Homo sapiens: one gene and its partner. The protein of the gene in region 1 interacts with the protein of each later gene in a pairwise test. Each region holds a gene or a part of one and is shown in the gene's direction. Other genes may lie near its edges. The genes, in order: GPC5 and MAGEC3.

The links.
Region 2: the proteins of GPC5 (region 1) and MAGEC3 interact in binary tests that used the Homo sapiens proteins (3 or more experiments, as listed by UniProt).

What each region holds. Positions count from the first base shown.
Region 1 is NC_000013.11:91,393,703-91,401,782, forward strand, and holds the start of GPC5 (glypican-5 precursor), read left to right. Parts: upstream 1-4,918; 5' UTR 4,919-5,344; coding exon 5,345-5,507; intron 5,508-8,080. UniProt on the Homo sapiens protein: Cell surface proteoglycan that bears heparan sulfate.
Region 2 is NC_000023.11:141,834,061-141,841,361, forward strand, and holds the start of MAGEC3 (melanoma-associated antigen C3), read left to right. Parts: upstream 1-4,255; coding exon 4,256-4,378; intron 4,379-7,301.

The sequences.
Region 1 (8,080 bases):
ATAAACATGTACTGATGATTATGAGGATTTTCAAACTGAAAATATAGATTAGTGGTATACAGACACACATGTGTGTGTATATATATACACATTAGTGGTATACTGACACGTGTGTGTGTGTGTGTGTGTGATTTTTGAAAATGTTTGCTGATCAAAGATTCCCACTGACTGTCATGTTAATTTCAGTTTGGTGTCTGGTTTTGAGTATTTTATGTAATATTTTATTTGCTGTGTAGTCTCTCCTTTAGGCAGCCTTGCCTTCTCCTCTCCTCTCCTCGCCTCGCCTTACCTCGCCTCACCTCTCCTCTCTTCTTTTTTCGTTTCTTTTGAGACAGGGTCTCACGCTGTTACCCAGGCTGGAATGCAGTGGTGCGAACATGGCTCACTGCAGCCTCAACCTGCTGGGCTCAAGTGATCCTCCTACTTTAGCCTCCCAAGCTGCTGGGGCTTACAGGCATGTGCCATTATGCCTGGCCATTTTTTTGGAATTTTTGTAGAGACAGAGTTTCCCTATGTTGCCCAGGCTGGTCTCAAACTCCTGGGCTCAAGTGATCCTCCTGCCTTAGCCTCCCAAAGTGCTGAGATTACGGGCGAGAGCTACTGTGCCCGGTGGTGATTTTTTTTTTTTTTAACAGAACCATTACTATCTTCACTAGAGGAGATTTCAGGGGAGTATCACTCAATTTTCTCCTGGTTACTTGGTGGCAGAAATTCATTACTGGGGCAGCTCGGGCTGACATCCAACTTGGTTCTCTTTATTGTGCAACCAACGGCTTAGAGCCTACATCGGAGGGAGAGAGAAGGTAGGGCAAGACAAAAGTCAGCACTTTTTTGGAAATAATGAAGTGGAAGTTATTTGTATTAAGGATATTCTTTCTCTGACAACCTCCTTTTCACCCAGTTGATGAAAGAGGGATCCCCCTTTGTAAATTATACGAGATGATCAAACACACAAGACTGGACAGATGAGATTTACAGCAGTTTGTTAGTCACACATACTCATAGCCCAGGGGAGGAGGCTACCACATGCCATGCAGGGCCATACAGGGGAGGAGGGGCTTCATTTGGGAGCAGAGTGAACCTGCAGGAGTTGTGGGAGGCAAGCTTTGTAGTAACAAGAAGATGGTGTGTTGTGGGGAGGACCCCTTGGTTCCCACAGGAGGATGTGATTATCTTGTTGGACTAATTGCTCTGAAGGGAGGTGAAAGCCATTAGGTTGAAGACAGGGTGGGATGGAGCTGGTCCAGCTAAGGGAGGTAGCCAGCAAGCAAGACTTTCCATCTGGGTGGGGGGCATATCTGGCCAGAGCAGGAGAACTCATGACTAGGGACCTGTGAGGCTCAAAGATGTCAAGGCAGTTCGTGGGATTTTAGTGCTTGCAAAACAGTTCTCCTAGTTAAAAGCTTAGTGGAGGTAGGAAGTAGGAGCAGGTAGTACCTTGGCCAGCCCCACGTCAGTGAGGTACTATCAGGCCATCGTTGAAGCCAATGCAGAGCTCTGGACCACTATAACCAAGGTGTTCAGCAGGTTGTCCACATGGATAGCTGTGAGTACCAGAGTTTATATTTATATGATAGGTTGAGTTCAAGGGGCCACAAACCAGGTGTCTGGCTTTTCAGGCAGGCGAGTGTAGTGACTAAAGGGGTACAAAAGTTATGAAGCCTGGCTTGCATTTGGGCTCTTATCAGGATTTCTGGAAGGTTATTTAATCTCTTTGTACTTCAGTTTTCTCAGTAGTATAATAGTAACTGTCTCATGGAATGGTTGAAATGTTAAATGAGATAATATCTGTAAGTGCTTAATAAATCTTAGCTCTTGTCATTGACTGGGTATAAAAGTTACCCAAATCAGCTTCTGAGGGTAAACTAATTAGTGGCCAGTCTTAGCCTAAAAGAATAGTCAGGGTTGAAGACTCTGTGATATCATTAAATCACCTAAACCACACTGGAGGTTTTCTTTCTTTCTTTTTTTTTGTGAGATGGAGTCTCACTCTGTCCCCCAGGCTGGAGTCCTGTGGCACGATCTGGGCTCACTGCAATCTCTGCCTCCTGGGTTCAAGCGATTCTCCTGCCTCAGCCTCTTGAGTAGCTGGGATTACAGGCATGGGCCACCACACCCACCTAATTTTCATATTTTTAGTAGAGATGGAGTTTCACCATGTTGGCCAGATGCTCTCGATCTCCTGACCTCGTGATCCACCCGCCTCAGCCTCCCAAAGTGCTGGGATTACAGGCGTGAACCACCGCACCCGGCCGAGGTTTTTTATTTCTCTTTACAAGGTCCTAAGTTGACAAACTATAAACATATAAACAGTTACATAGAAAGTATCAGGGAAGTTTTGGATTTAGAATATTACTAAGCTGTATTTTAAATAATGACCATTTAAGGATTCTCCTATCCAAGGGTATTGGTATTTTGAAAGCAAAGCGCAATGCCTATTATATAAAAGACATTCAATACATTTTTTAAATACATTTTGTAAAATAAGGCATTATAACTATCAAATTATGGACAGTTTTCCCTAGCTTCATTTGTAATGTTTACCAGTAAATTGAATAAAAGGCTAGTTATGGTATAATTTGCAGAGGTTGCTCTAGAATGTTCTTATAAAAGGGATCGTGGCATTGTGTTCTGGGTGGAACTAGAAAACTTGTCTTGAAGCTTGGTAGCTTCAGTAGCAGGCATACTGTTGCCTTGCGTGGTGGGCTTAGGGATGCTAATAGGACAAGATGCCCTTCCAGGCCACATGCTGGCTCATCCACTTTGCTAGCAGTTATGGATAAGAGGTAGAAGGAAAATATATTTATTTTTTGTTAATGGGGATATTTTATACAGACTAAATATATTCTTGTTAGTTCCTATGGCATTTCTATAAATGACCTCCCACCTGTTTTGTTAACTTATAAAATCACTGAGAAAACTTGCTTGTGTGTCTCTTTAAACTCCTGTTAAGCCTAGAATAGCGGTTAAAAAAATTGTATGTTTTCAACCAATATGTATTAGTCAATTAGCTTTTACTGAACCATCAATACTCAGTTGTGTTTATGATTTTTATCCTTGCAAGACACACCGTTTTAGAGATTCCAGTTAATGGGATAGATGGTAATTTAAGGATCTTTTTGATGCTAAGAGTCTAAGATGATCAAATCTATCAAGGAGAGATCTTGGTAACAATAAAGATGTTTTAGAAAAACTTGGGAATTTATTAGCCTTATATAGAGATACACATAATTCCAGTAGAATACAGTTATATAGATAGAAATTATGCATATTTACTAGTAAAAAATCTGCTAAATGAATAAACAGCCCTTGGTGTTGCTGCCCAAAGGCCTTTGGTGAAACCTGATGGGTTTTTCTGTACCACAGAATAGTCAAGGAGAGCCTCTGGAGAAGAGCATGCGGTCTGGATTTGGAAGCCTCAGTTTGATTTCTGGCTTTGTCACTTACCTTAGGCATTCAGTAAGTCACTTCACCTCTGTGTTCCTGTTTCCTCATCTGTAAAACAATGATAATAGTAGTAACTACTTTATAAGGTTGTTATAAAGATTACATGAGTGAATTCATTTCCATAAAATACTTAGAATATTATCTGGCCCATAAGCACTATATACATTCTCATGGTTTTTCTTGTTTCTTTTCATAGATATAGGTGGCTTCCAGACAATCTTTCCATACTTGGTGGTTAGAGCAGAAGAGATTCATGAAGAGCACTGCCCTTTGAAACAAAATCTCATATTCAGAAAACTGATGCCAAACACCAAGTAGCATGATTTCACTCTGAAGCAGTGTTTCAGCCATTGCCCTGGAATGGTTTTAAAGCAAGTGATATACTGCTGAAAGTGCTGCCTTTGATATTAAATGTTCATTAAAAATCTTCACTAAGACATAAAGTTTTTCACTACTATCTCTTGGTAAGGGTTCAAATTTGAGATGAAATTCCTTAAAGTGGTTAAAGCATTCATTGTCCCCTCTGCCTGATGCTTTTAACTAGTTTATTTTACAGAAGGAGTACTCTCTTCAAGTGGCTGTAGATTGAGACACTCTTACAGGCTTAGTTGTTGAGTCAACCACATTTAAAAAATGCACCTGCCCTTTGGTTTATGGTGCGTAATGCATTCCTCTCATAAACTGTAAATTGACAAAATTCCTTTGCCATTTTAAAATTGCTTAAAGTATTTATTTTTCTATATTCCTTGTAAGGAACTCCCCTGAGCACTCTTAACTTAATTGCTCTCTGAAAAATATTTTAAAGAAATTCCAGAAGTGGTAAAGCTCAGAGGAGCCCCACAAATACAAAGTGCTGAAGTAAAATATGATGCTAAATGGTGATAAGAGACTTAAAACTAGATTTCATTGTGATAAGAATGTGATAAAGTTTGATTGTAATTCTTATACCTCCTTTCAGAAAATCATGTTATAGAAAAATGTTCCTAAGCAGTAAAACAAAGCCATTTTAAAAAATAACTTCTCATGTGCACTCTTTAACAACCTAAGTGTTATGAAGTCTCTCAATTGAGATCTTTAACCGTAAATAGTTTTTGCCTTTTGTATTATGTCCAGATCCTATTTAATGCAATTAGAATACAAATTCCTATGTACTGAGGACCTTGATTACATAGATGAGATATTTCTTAGTTCCAGTTGGTGTTTCTCATCTCTTGTCTTCTCTGACCCTATTTATACATTCTCTGTTTTTATCAGATGATTCTTCCCCAGAACGGACTGGGAGAGCGAGGTCCGGGTTTCCTTCTATTTATTTGCATCGATGTCGCTCCGAGTCTTCAGCACTGGGCCGCGTATGACAGCATCTTAGTGGGTGCGGAGCGGGACAGCGCGCCGGGGGCGTGGCAGGGGCGTGGCCTGTCCGCGGGGCGGGGAGTGCGGGGCGGGGCTTCCGCGGAGCGCAGCGAGCGGGCACATCCCAGGTTAGCTGCTGCGAGCCGAGCCGGGCGGCGGAGGCGGCGGCGGCGGCGGCAGTGGCGGCAGTGGCGGCAGTGGCGGCAGCGGCAGCAGTTGCAGCAGTGGTGGCCAGAGCGGATGCTTGCGGGCTCCCTGCGGCTCCACTAGTTTTCTTCGCCCCGCCCAGCCGCCCACTCTTCTCGGCTAGGGAAGAAGACCAGAGGGTGCTCAGCTGGAAAACTCTGGTGTCTCAGCTTAGGGCCTCCTCCGGGAAGAGCTAACTGCTCCCAGGTGAAGCCGGTGCCCGCGGGCGGTCCGTACACCCCGCAGCCGGCTCGCACCGCTCGAGAGCCTCGGCCGCTGTGTCTTCCACGTCTGCAGCTCAGCCAGGGCGCGCAGGGCGAGTGGGGTCCACTGGCGGGTAAAGGGGACCAGGACGGCGAGGATGGACGCACAGACCTGGCCCGTGGGCTTTCGCTGCCTCCTCCTTCTGGCCCTGGTTGGGTCCGCCCGCAGCGAGGGCGTGCAGACCTGCGAAGAAGTTCGGAAACTTTTCCAGTGGCGGCTGCTGGGAGCTGTCAGGGGGCTGCCGGATTCGCCGCGGGCAGGTAAGGGGCAATGAGGGGGTCTCTGGACTGGCGGCGTCCGAGCCCGGCCTTCGCTCCCCCAGGCTCCCTTGGTGGCACTCGTGGGAAGATGACCTTTCGGGCCCTGCAGCCGCGCAGGGTGAATCCCGGGGAGGCTTCCGGGGATGCTTGGTGCGGGTAGCCTGAGTGCAGCGCAGCGCAGCTCTGGGGACCCCTAACCAAGCCTGCGACGAATCCCCGTTCTGGGCATCTGCTTCCCGCCCGGCTCCCTTCGTCTTGGAGGATGAGTTGGAAGGAACCAGGAAAGCAGACATCAGGGCGTGGGGGACACGCAGTCTAACTCCGTTTCTCTTCCGAGTAGGAATTTCCCCAGTGCCCCACCGGGGATTTCGGTTTACTGCTTTCTCATAAGGTGGAGGGAATTGAATTGATCGCCCCAAGTTTGGTACTAAAAATCACAAACCTGCGATATACCCCTTTGCTGGAGAATGGGGCACAGACAAGGGCAGCCGGTCTCCTCTGTAATTAGGACTTGGACCCTGTGCACCCAGAGACGTGACCCTTAGCTGCCCTTCTGTGCCCTCGTATCAAGCCCTGCTTGGAGGAAACCCAACCACCCAGTGTGTCTCCCAGCACCAAGGTAGTTTTTAGCCTGAAAAGTGTTAGGGCAACAGGCGATCAAACCGAACGTACTGGGGAGTCACTTGACATGGATGAGATGTACCAGCGTTCCAAAGGGAAAGATACAGTTTGTGTGGCCAGCGTGGATCTTGCTTCCTGTGAGCGCCTTTTGCCTGTGCTTTCGAACCCTGCTCCCCGTTTCCACCGCACCAATTTCCTTCTGCTGGTGGGAGTTCCAGTGTAGGTTCTGTCTGGAAGAATAGGTCATAGCTGTCAAACGCAATAGCAGGTGTCTAGAGCTAAGTAAGATCTCACTAGAGCCATGCACCCCTTTAGCTGTGACTATGAAGCCAACACAGACGAATCTGTGAGGTTACTGGTTGAACAAAGAACTTGTGGAGGACGCTTAAGTCTAAAGTCCCGAGTTTCCAGGGTTGGGGGACTTGCTTGTAGCAATGAGGAAGTGTGAGCTGTAGCCGCTTTTCTTGATTGCTTTGCTCAATTTTAAGTCATCCCAGAAAGAAAATCTAGGCATTCGGGAACACTGACTCCATTTGAGTTTACATGACCAGTCTTAAACCCAGCTATTTCTTTGTATACCTGTTTGGTACTAGGTGCTTTTTCTGTATTACTTGAAACAAAGTTGACATTCTCAGTTTAGGGCGATTCTTCTATCCCCAAATAAAATATCGCCTTATAGATCTGTATTTTTCTTAGTGCATTCTTTTCATTAGGAAATAAATCTCACTTTATTGGCTGCTGATAAAACTAAAGTGAGTTTGTGCGTGTGGGTGGTGAGGGTGTTATGATGTGAGATCTTTACCTGAATTATTAGATTTTTAGTCCCCAAATATGGTAACTTTGCCTGCTATGTTCACCGAATGTTGATGGCCAGCCCCTTCTCCCCAGTAAGGCCCTGATTTCACTCCACTCTGGTATCTCAGTATTTCTGGTATCTGCTGAATGCAACACATTGATTGGGTGTTCATCTCTTTTAAAGATGAACTTTCCAGAGTATCAGTCACTGAGACAGTGTCTTACCAGGATGTCAGGGAAAACTAAAGCTCTGTCCTAAGGAGAGGGAAATGACTGTAATTATTTGCATTTGATACACATGACACACAAAAAAGTTCCATGACGACAAGGAATCTTTCTTTTCTAAGTCACTCTGGATTGTTTCCCCATTGCTAGTAGATTTTTTAAATCTGTGGCTGAAGGTGATGGAGGAATCACGGGAGCACTCACAGAAGAGGCTTAGAGACATCAGTGGTACTGGTGAAAAGAAATGCTAAGTTCCTTTAATATTTTCACTAAGAAAAAGTCACACAAAAGTGCTATGCTGATTTAGATCCACCCCCCAAAAAAGGCATTCATATAGGAATTTGATATAATTCTGAAGTTTTGTGTCTGTATTGTTGGTCATTCTTTTACAAATAATTCAGCAAAATATTAAACTTTTTTAAACACTGATTCCTCTCATCTCTCTAAAAAAAAAAACCCCTCAATCCCAAATTGAGTAAACCAAACATACCACATGCTTAATAAATAATTTTCTTTCTTTTTGTATTTATATATGATCTACAACATTTAACATGATTGAATATGGTAATTGACTATCATATTTTCTAAGATTATCCTCAATCTCAAGAGAGAACATAATTTAGTCATTTCTCCATGAGAATACAAATAGTAATATCTTTTAACAAATCTATTCATTTAGCACATACCCTTTCACTGACTAAAACAAACACATTTAATTTGATTTTGTTTTTGGAAGTACGTATTTTTACTGCTTTCTTGCATTTCTTGTTCACAGTGGTTAATCCCTGAGATGTCTAGCCAAAACACAGTTTGTATAATATAAGCAGGTAGAATAAGTTTTTAGTTTCTTCCTACCTTTGTGACTTTTACTTTTTCTGATAAAAATGTTATCCAAATTGAAATTATTAAAATTGTGAGAGCAGTGATTTAAA
Region 2 (7,301 bases), on another chromosome or scaffold:
AGTTCTTAAGGCCAAAATTACAATAAGTTAAAGTGAAGAAATGATTACTTCTTCCCAAAATCAGTCCCACAGTGAGTAAGCCTAATTCCAAAACAGTGATCCTAACGTTGGATCTGTTTTCACATATTTATGAAAATATGTTTTTATGAATACATCTATATATTTATAAAATCTCTTCATTTCCTGTGTAGTTTTAATGTTTCCCAAGCCTATACTTTAAATTACTAAATTTTTTATAGGGTTGATTATGTTCCTTATTGTTTCCTATTGATTTTAGAGTTATTTTTTAGTTTCTCCACTTGTTAAATATCTGTGGTCACTTTTGTTCTTCAGCCACTACTGCAGAACCTGGCAACAAATACTACTTAGCTAGTTGTCTTTGCTTGCTGTATTCCTGTTCTCTTCCCTTCTATGTTATAGAGCATTTTACATATTGGTGCTATGCTGTTATTATTTGTTTTTCTTCTCGTTTATTTTGAATTGGGGCCATGGATTGTCCCCACTGCCAAAAATAGATGAATACGTTTTCCTTGATATCTCTGTTCTAGGAAAATCTTTGACTTAACCCTCTCTCTCCACTTTGAACAGTGGTTCTCAAACATGGATGTGAAAAAGTACAGAGCATCAATCACCCCTCCAGACCTACTAAAGAAATCTTCCAGTTGCAGCTTCAGAATCTGTCTTTTTTAGCCCAACTTCCAGAACTGGTCTGCATATTTTTTTGGACCAATGCCTTGAAACATGCACCGAACAATTTGCACATTTATTGTTTTTATTCTTTGTTCAGTCATTTAGCTCCTTTATGGGAACAGGGGGCTTGGGGGACAGTGAGGAGATATCTGGGGCTGTGAGTAGTTGCAGTCAGGAAGTTTTTTTCTTAGTTGTTGGTTTGTTTCTTAGTTGCTCAGTTTGATTTTTTGGCTCCTATGCACTGGCATCAGCAGCACCGTGTTGGGGGCATGCTCTCATCTGTTGGTGAAGAATGGCCTTTTTGTGTTTCAGTTTACTCCCTCTCAAAGTGAGAAATTCATTTTCATAAAAAGTCCAGGGTTGTTGAGGTTTTTGTTTTGTTTGACCCTATGTATTTTTCTGTGCAGAAGGCTGTGGCTATGATTCTCAAGAGATTGCTTCTACTTCTCTCTGATATTCTGTCTGTTTAGAAGGAAGATAAACTACAGGTTGGCAGGTAGTTAGGGAGGCAATCACATCGGTTGTATGGCTTTGCATCTTGTCCAGCATTTAGTTTCTCAGGAATGCTTATTTGCAGTGGAGAAACAAGCTCCACACAGTGCAGCCTACACTTCCTCCAGATCTGCTCAAGTCTAATTTCCTTGCTTCTTCAAATTGGAATATCTGGACCAAGGTAGTGATAGGGGTTATATATTGATTTTTGAGTCTTCTTTCAATCTGGGCCAAATTATACTGGATCTGAATCATACCTCAAGAATTATATTGATTAAGACTCAGTTTTGTTTCAAGTTTCAGCATTGATGAATCCTTTCTGTTCATTTTGGTTAGTCACAGGGTGAGAGGTTTTATAAGCCAACACTATTTCCGCTTGCTTTCCCATAGCTTATTCAGTATATTGAAAAATTTTCAGGAAACAACAGCAAAATCCTACATAATATTCCTTGTTGAATATCAAATTTCTGTTTTTGACTTTCCATTGGAATAAGTCAGGAATGTCTACGTAAGACAATGCTTGAGGGTAAAAGATGAGTGAATGCGGAGATCTTTGTGAGATTGAGATGGCTGGCATCAGCTCTGAAGCCATGCGATCATTAATAGTAAGTTTCTGCTCTGCCATTTACAGATGCTGTAATCTGAATCGATCTTTCAATTTGTTCAAAATTCAGTTTTCTTTTAACTTTGTAAAATAAAAATAACTCTTGTTACTACATGTTGGGACATTTTTAACAGATTAAATGTGATAATATAAATCTGAAGTATTGAGCACTGTACCTGGCATAGAATGAGCTCATTATAATATCAGTCTCCTTATTCTTTCCCTTGTCTAACCATCAGTGGTGAGAAACAGCTGTTGATTTGCCAAAATATATGCATAATTTTATAAATGAAAACATCCAAAATCTCTTTGGGTGGCCTATTAAGGAATGAGCTACAGGGTTTTTCACCTTTATTACTATTGACATTTTGAGACAGATAGTTCTGTGGGCTTTTTTGAGGGGGTGTCATCTTGCTGAATTTAGAATGATTAGCAGCATTCCTAGTTTCTATTCAATAGATGCCGATAGCACCAAGAGCCATCCCAGTTGTGACAACCAAAAATATTTCCAGACTGCAAAATGTCTTCTTGGGATGGGGTGCAAAATCACCCCCAATCTGAGCACTACTGAGCTAGAGGAATGAAAAGGACATTGTGTTGGAAGAGGGTAGGGACTTAAGCTTTGAAATGTTGTTCATAGCTTGGAAGAGGCCCACCTTAGCCGTTTCTGCCATTGGGTGAACTAGGCTTTTTGTGCCTAGGTGTTAGTGAATGGATGTCAGAGCAGAAGGTAGGAGACAGGAGAAGAGTCTTCTCTATTTAGAGGGAATGGAAAAGATGCAGGGCAGTGTCAGAAGGTTTCAGATCTCTCATGAGCAAATGCAAAACTTCTGTGTTCTCAAGACCGGAAACACATTTCTCAGCCAAGGGAAGAGGCTAATTGAGAGGAGTGATCGTGGCTCTTCTTCATTTTCTTAGTAAGCTCCTGAAGGTGGCAAGACCGCAGAAAAGCAATGCATTTAATACCTCAGGGACTTGTTAGTGCCTGAAATTGAACATGGAGGCATTGGGATGATTTCATTGTGCCTCAGAAGTTATTAAACTGAGTCAGGCAAGTCTGCACTCTGGCTCCCCATGTGCAGGTGCAAGCAGTGGCCCCAGTGGGGATCCGAGGGCAGTTCCCTGGCTGGTGGGGTAATGTTCCAGGCAGGAACACAGCTGCCTCTGCTGCACAAAAAATCTGCCTGAAAAGTGGGAGGCAGCAGGTTGTAATAAGCCCCACTCAGCTCCCACACACTTGGCAAGTCAGTTTTCATACCCACAGTGTTCTGCTAGCAGCAGCAGCTAACTGGGTTTCAAGTGGCCCGTGCTCAGAATTTAAAACCATCCCAGGCCATAAGCTTTCCCTATGGACACAGAAACCATATCTTTCAGGCTGCATCCTTTCCAGTCCACCTGTGAAGCAGGGCCATGCAGCTCATGTGCCTTGTTGCCGTAGCACACTTCTCACTTGCCCCTCGGTTCTGGCCAATCAGCTTTGTCCTTACTAAGGATTATATCACAAATCCCAGTTGGGCTCTTCTCTCAAACTGTGACTGCAGCCTGAGTTAGACTTCTGCAACGTCCCGTGAGGTGGGATCAGGAATGGCTTCCCTCCATTCTTGCTGGAATCTGGGTCTGCACACAAAGCATGTCCCGATGCTGCTCCTTCTTATATATTCCTTACTTTTCACTGAATCACCTCTAGAGCTGAGTAGGTTTGAAGTCCTCCCTCATGACTTGTATTGCCTGGCTCGCCTGTGGGAGTATATGTCATGACAGCAATCTATCCCTCTCTCATGCTCTGGGGACTAATGGTTTTCCATCTGTTTTATGATGTAGTCTGTTGCCTGCCACTTCATTCAAAGGGTCTGTGGTTTCTTTCAGTTTTTCTGTTAAGTTCTTACATTGTTTCTTCGAATAAATTTTACAGCATGAATCTCTACATGCCATTTTGTCTTACCAAGTGGGATAAGTATGCTTATAATGCTTCCAATCTGCCATCTTGGAAAAAAAGAAAAAAAAAACTTTAAATATTTTGTCTGTAATGTGCTATGGAAGAGACCTTTTCACATTGTATCTGTTTAGGAATTGATGGGCCTCCTGTATCTCAATGTCTAAGTGTCTTGCTCGACTTAGGAAGTGTCATCTATTATTTCAATAAATAGGTCTTTGAAAACATGTTTTCTCTCTTTGCCTTCTGGGCTATCAGTGATTTTTATATTTGGTCACTTTATGTTGTTAGATAGATTCCAAAGGTTTATTTTATTATTTTCTTTTTTTCTTTATTTTTGTCTGACAGCGTTATTTCAAAAAAAACTGTCTTCAAGCAAAATGTGATCTTAACATAAGTCAGTTATGATTGAGTATATTGTTGAAGCTTTCATGTGTATTTTTTAGTTTATTCACTGCATTCTTTGGCTCCAGAATTTCTGTTCGTTCCTTTTTTATGGTCTCTATCTCTTTGGTAAAGACAGGGTGGCAGTGGCCATGCTGCTGCCCTGCCACTGGGTGTTGGATGCCACCTTCAGTGATGGCAGTCTAGGCCAGTGGGTGAAAAACACATGTGCCACATATGCCTTATCCCCAGTGGTGCTCCCACCTCAGCCCCAGGTGTGGTAGCCCATGAATGCTCATGTCTAAGCCCCAGGTTAACAGCCAGCTCTTCTTTTGCATCTCAGCCTCAGTGTTGCTTGGCTCCAAGACAGTGTGCAGTCTGTTGGGGGTGAGGCTCTAAGATGCTATCTTGCCCAGCCTTGATGTTCATGTCTTTCCCTTGGTTGCAGTAGCCTGTGGTCGCTCATGTCTGAATCTCCAGGGAAACATCAGACATTTAGTTTGCACCTAGGCCTCAATGCCACTGGGCTCCAGGACAGTATGTAGTTCATCGGGGGTGAGGCTCTGCAGTGGTGCCTCATTTGTGCCTCAGTCCTAAAAGCAGCAGCCCACGCCTTCGTCCCACCTCTGCACCAGATGCTGTAGTCTGTAGTCACTGATGCCTATGTCCCTGGGGCAGCAGTTCGTGCTTCTCTTGCACCTCAGCCCTGGGCTACTGGGCTCCAGGACAGTGCTCAGTCTGTTGAGGGCAGGGCTCTAAAATGGTACTTTGTTGTAGCTGCTTAAGTCTCAAGAAGTGTGAGGGACCCAGCGGGAGCTTTCTCCCTGAAGCAGTGCCATCATACAATCTCCTGGCAGCTTTCTATGTTAGTTTCGGGGCCCATGATGGTTGAAGGGATCTCCTGTGGCTGGGATTATAGGAGTCTATAGTGAGAATGTAAACTACTGAGGCTCTCTCACCTATCCTTTCTCTGTATTTGGAGTCTCTCAGCTCACAGCTGATCCTGGATGAGCAGGCTGCCTTGATTCCCTCTCCATCTCTGCTTTAAGTATTGCCTATCACTTTTCTAATGGATTCCAGTGATTTCCTTTGAATTATATATTCAAAGTGTGATTATCGACTCACCGTTTGGTTATTTTTAATGGAGAAAGTGAGTACAAAATGCCTCTAGTCTGCCATATTCATGGTTTCCAAGAAATAATTTTTAAAGGTTTTTAAATATTTTATGTAATTATAATGATTATGGGCATAAGAAGGATTATGGAGAAGAACGGAGCAAAATAAAAGCTTCATTCACTCTGCTGTCATATTTGATTATATCTTGAGGTCAAATTGATCTTTGCTATTGTCTTGGCTGCCGGCTCTGGCTACAGCTAATCCTGGGCAGGCTTTGCAGCTCCTACCACTTCCAGGCCCACAGCTGCAATCCCAAGCTTGCTCACCAAAACAAGTGTTTATTCATTATATCTTCAGTAGATTTTATTTTATAAATATGAATTGTTTATATGCATTTCTAATATGTCAAATGCTTTACTAGCTTTTTAATATCTTTATATCCATTTTCCCTGGATCATTACTTACTGTTCTTAACTCAGTGGTTCTTAACTGGAAGAGATTTTGCCACTTAGGGGATACTTGCCAATATCTAGAAATATTGTTGGTTGTCATAATTGGTGGCAGCAGGGAATGCTACTGGTATTTAATAAGCAGAGACAGAGATGCTTCTAAGCGTCTTATTGGACAAAGGACGACCTCACACAAGAAAGAATTATACTGCCTAAAATGTGATGGTGCTGACAGTGAGAAACCCTGAGTTTAACATAATTTGCTCAGAACTCTAAAAATGATTCACTTTCCAAAAATTTGCTGCATTTTTTCTTCTGGTCAGAATGTGCACAATGGAAATTCTTCCTGAAGGATTTGTGTGAGGAGACCTATTCTATAGCTGTTAAATGATTGGCAGGGAGGTTGATAGATGGAGGTGAAGTCAGCCAAAACTTAACTGATATTTAACAGCCAGGAAATACCCAACCTGGAAAGTATTCATTCATAGCATCACAAACCACTAAAGAAAAGTGATATTTTACCTCTGAGAAAGTTAACAGCAAAAGTATAGTCTTTCTAATTAGTTTTTAGCTTGCAATCTAAATAAATGACAAGTAGAGAATATCAGGTCATAAAATATCATTTAATTTTAAGAAATATTTTCATAAGAATATTGACATAAAAGTGATTTAAGAAAGTGAAAGTTACATTTAGCACAAGATTTTGCATTTTTCAAAAGTATATGATATTGGAAAAACATATAATTACATATTATTTTGAATTTGTTCTATGTAGCAAACTTTGTTCAGACCTCTTTAAGAACATTTCATAAATTTGGCATCATTACTAACATCTCCATGTTAAGAAGATTTTCACAGAAGCAATATTTTCTTGTGTCTCTAAATGGGAGAGAGTGCCTCTCCTCACTAAATTGCCATATTAAAGTGGACTGTTCAGCATTTATTTTCTTCAACCATTCTGTCTAAAATTCAGCCTGATGTATTAGCATTAGCATGAGTCCTCCTGCAAAATTGGTCAGTGGGTAGTTATGCTTTTGTGTGTTTTTCACATCAAAAAAAAAAACCCCACAAGAACAAAAACAAAACAAACACAAAAATGCTCAGTAAATAGTTAATGAATAAATTGTTCTATTCAAGGGGATTGAGAATGGACCTTGCTCCACTGCTTCTTTTTTTTTCTGTATTTTCAACATCTGCCTTTCTACTGGCTAATTAACTATAGTTTATAAATATGTTTAATATTAAATAAAAATTTAAGTAAGAGGAAGCATCAGGAACCACTTTAAAGGTGAATTGTAAAAAATAATGTGATAATAACTTCACTCTGCTTTTCCTTCTCACTTCTTTTCTTCTTTCTTCTTTTCTTTCCACTTAAGCCTCACAAGAGTGAAGCTTCTTGTCTGTCTCTTCTTACTTACCAGTCACTCTTTCTTCAACCTGGTGCTCTCTGACTCCTGTCTCTACCACTCAAATAAAGCTGTACTTTGCAAGACCATCAAAGCCATTTTAATTATCAAATCCAAAGACTCCTTTTGGATATTTCAGGTCTCCAAACAAATTGCATCTTCTTAAAGAGGAATTTCCTGACCACCTGAGTTAAATCTCATGACATTCGCAAACATATTGCCGTATT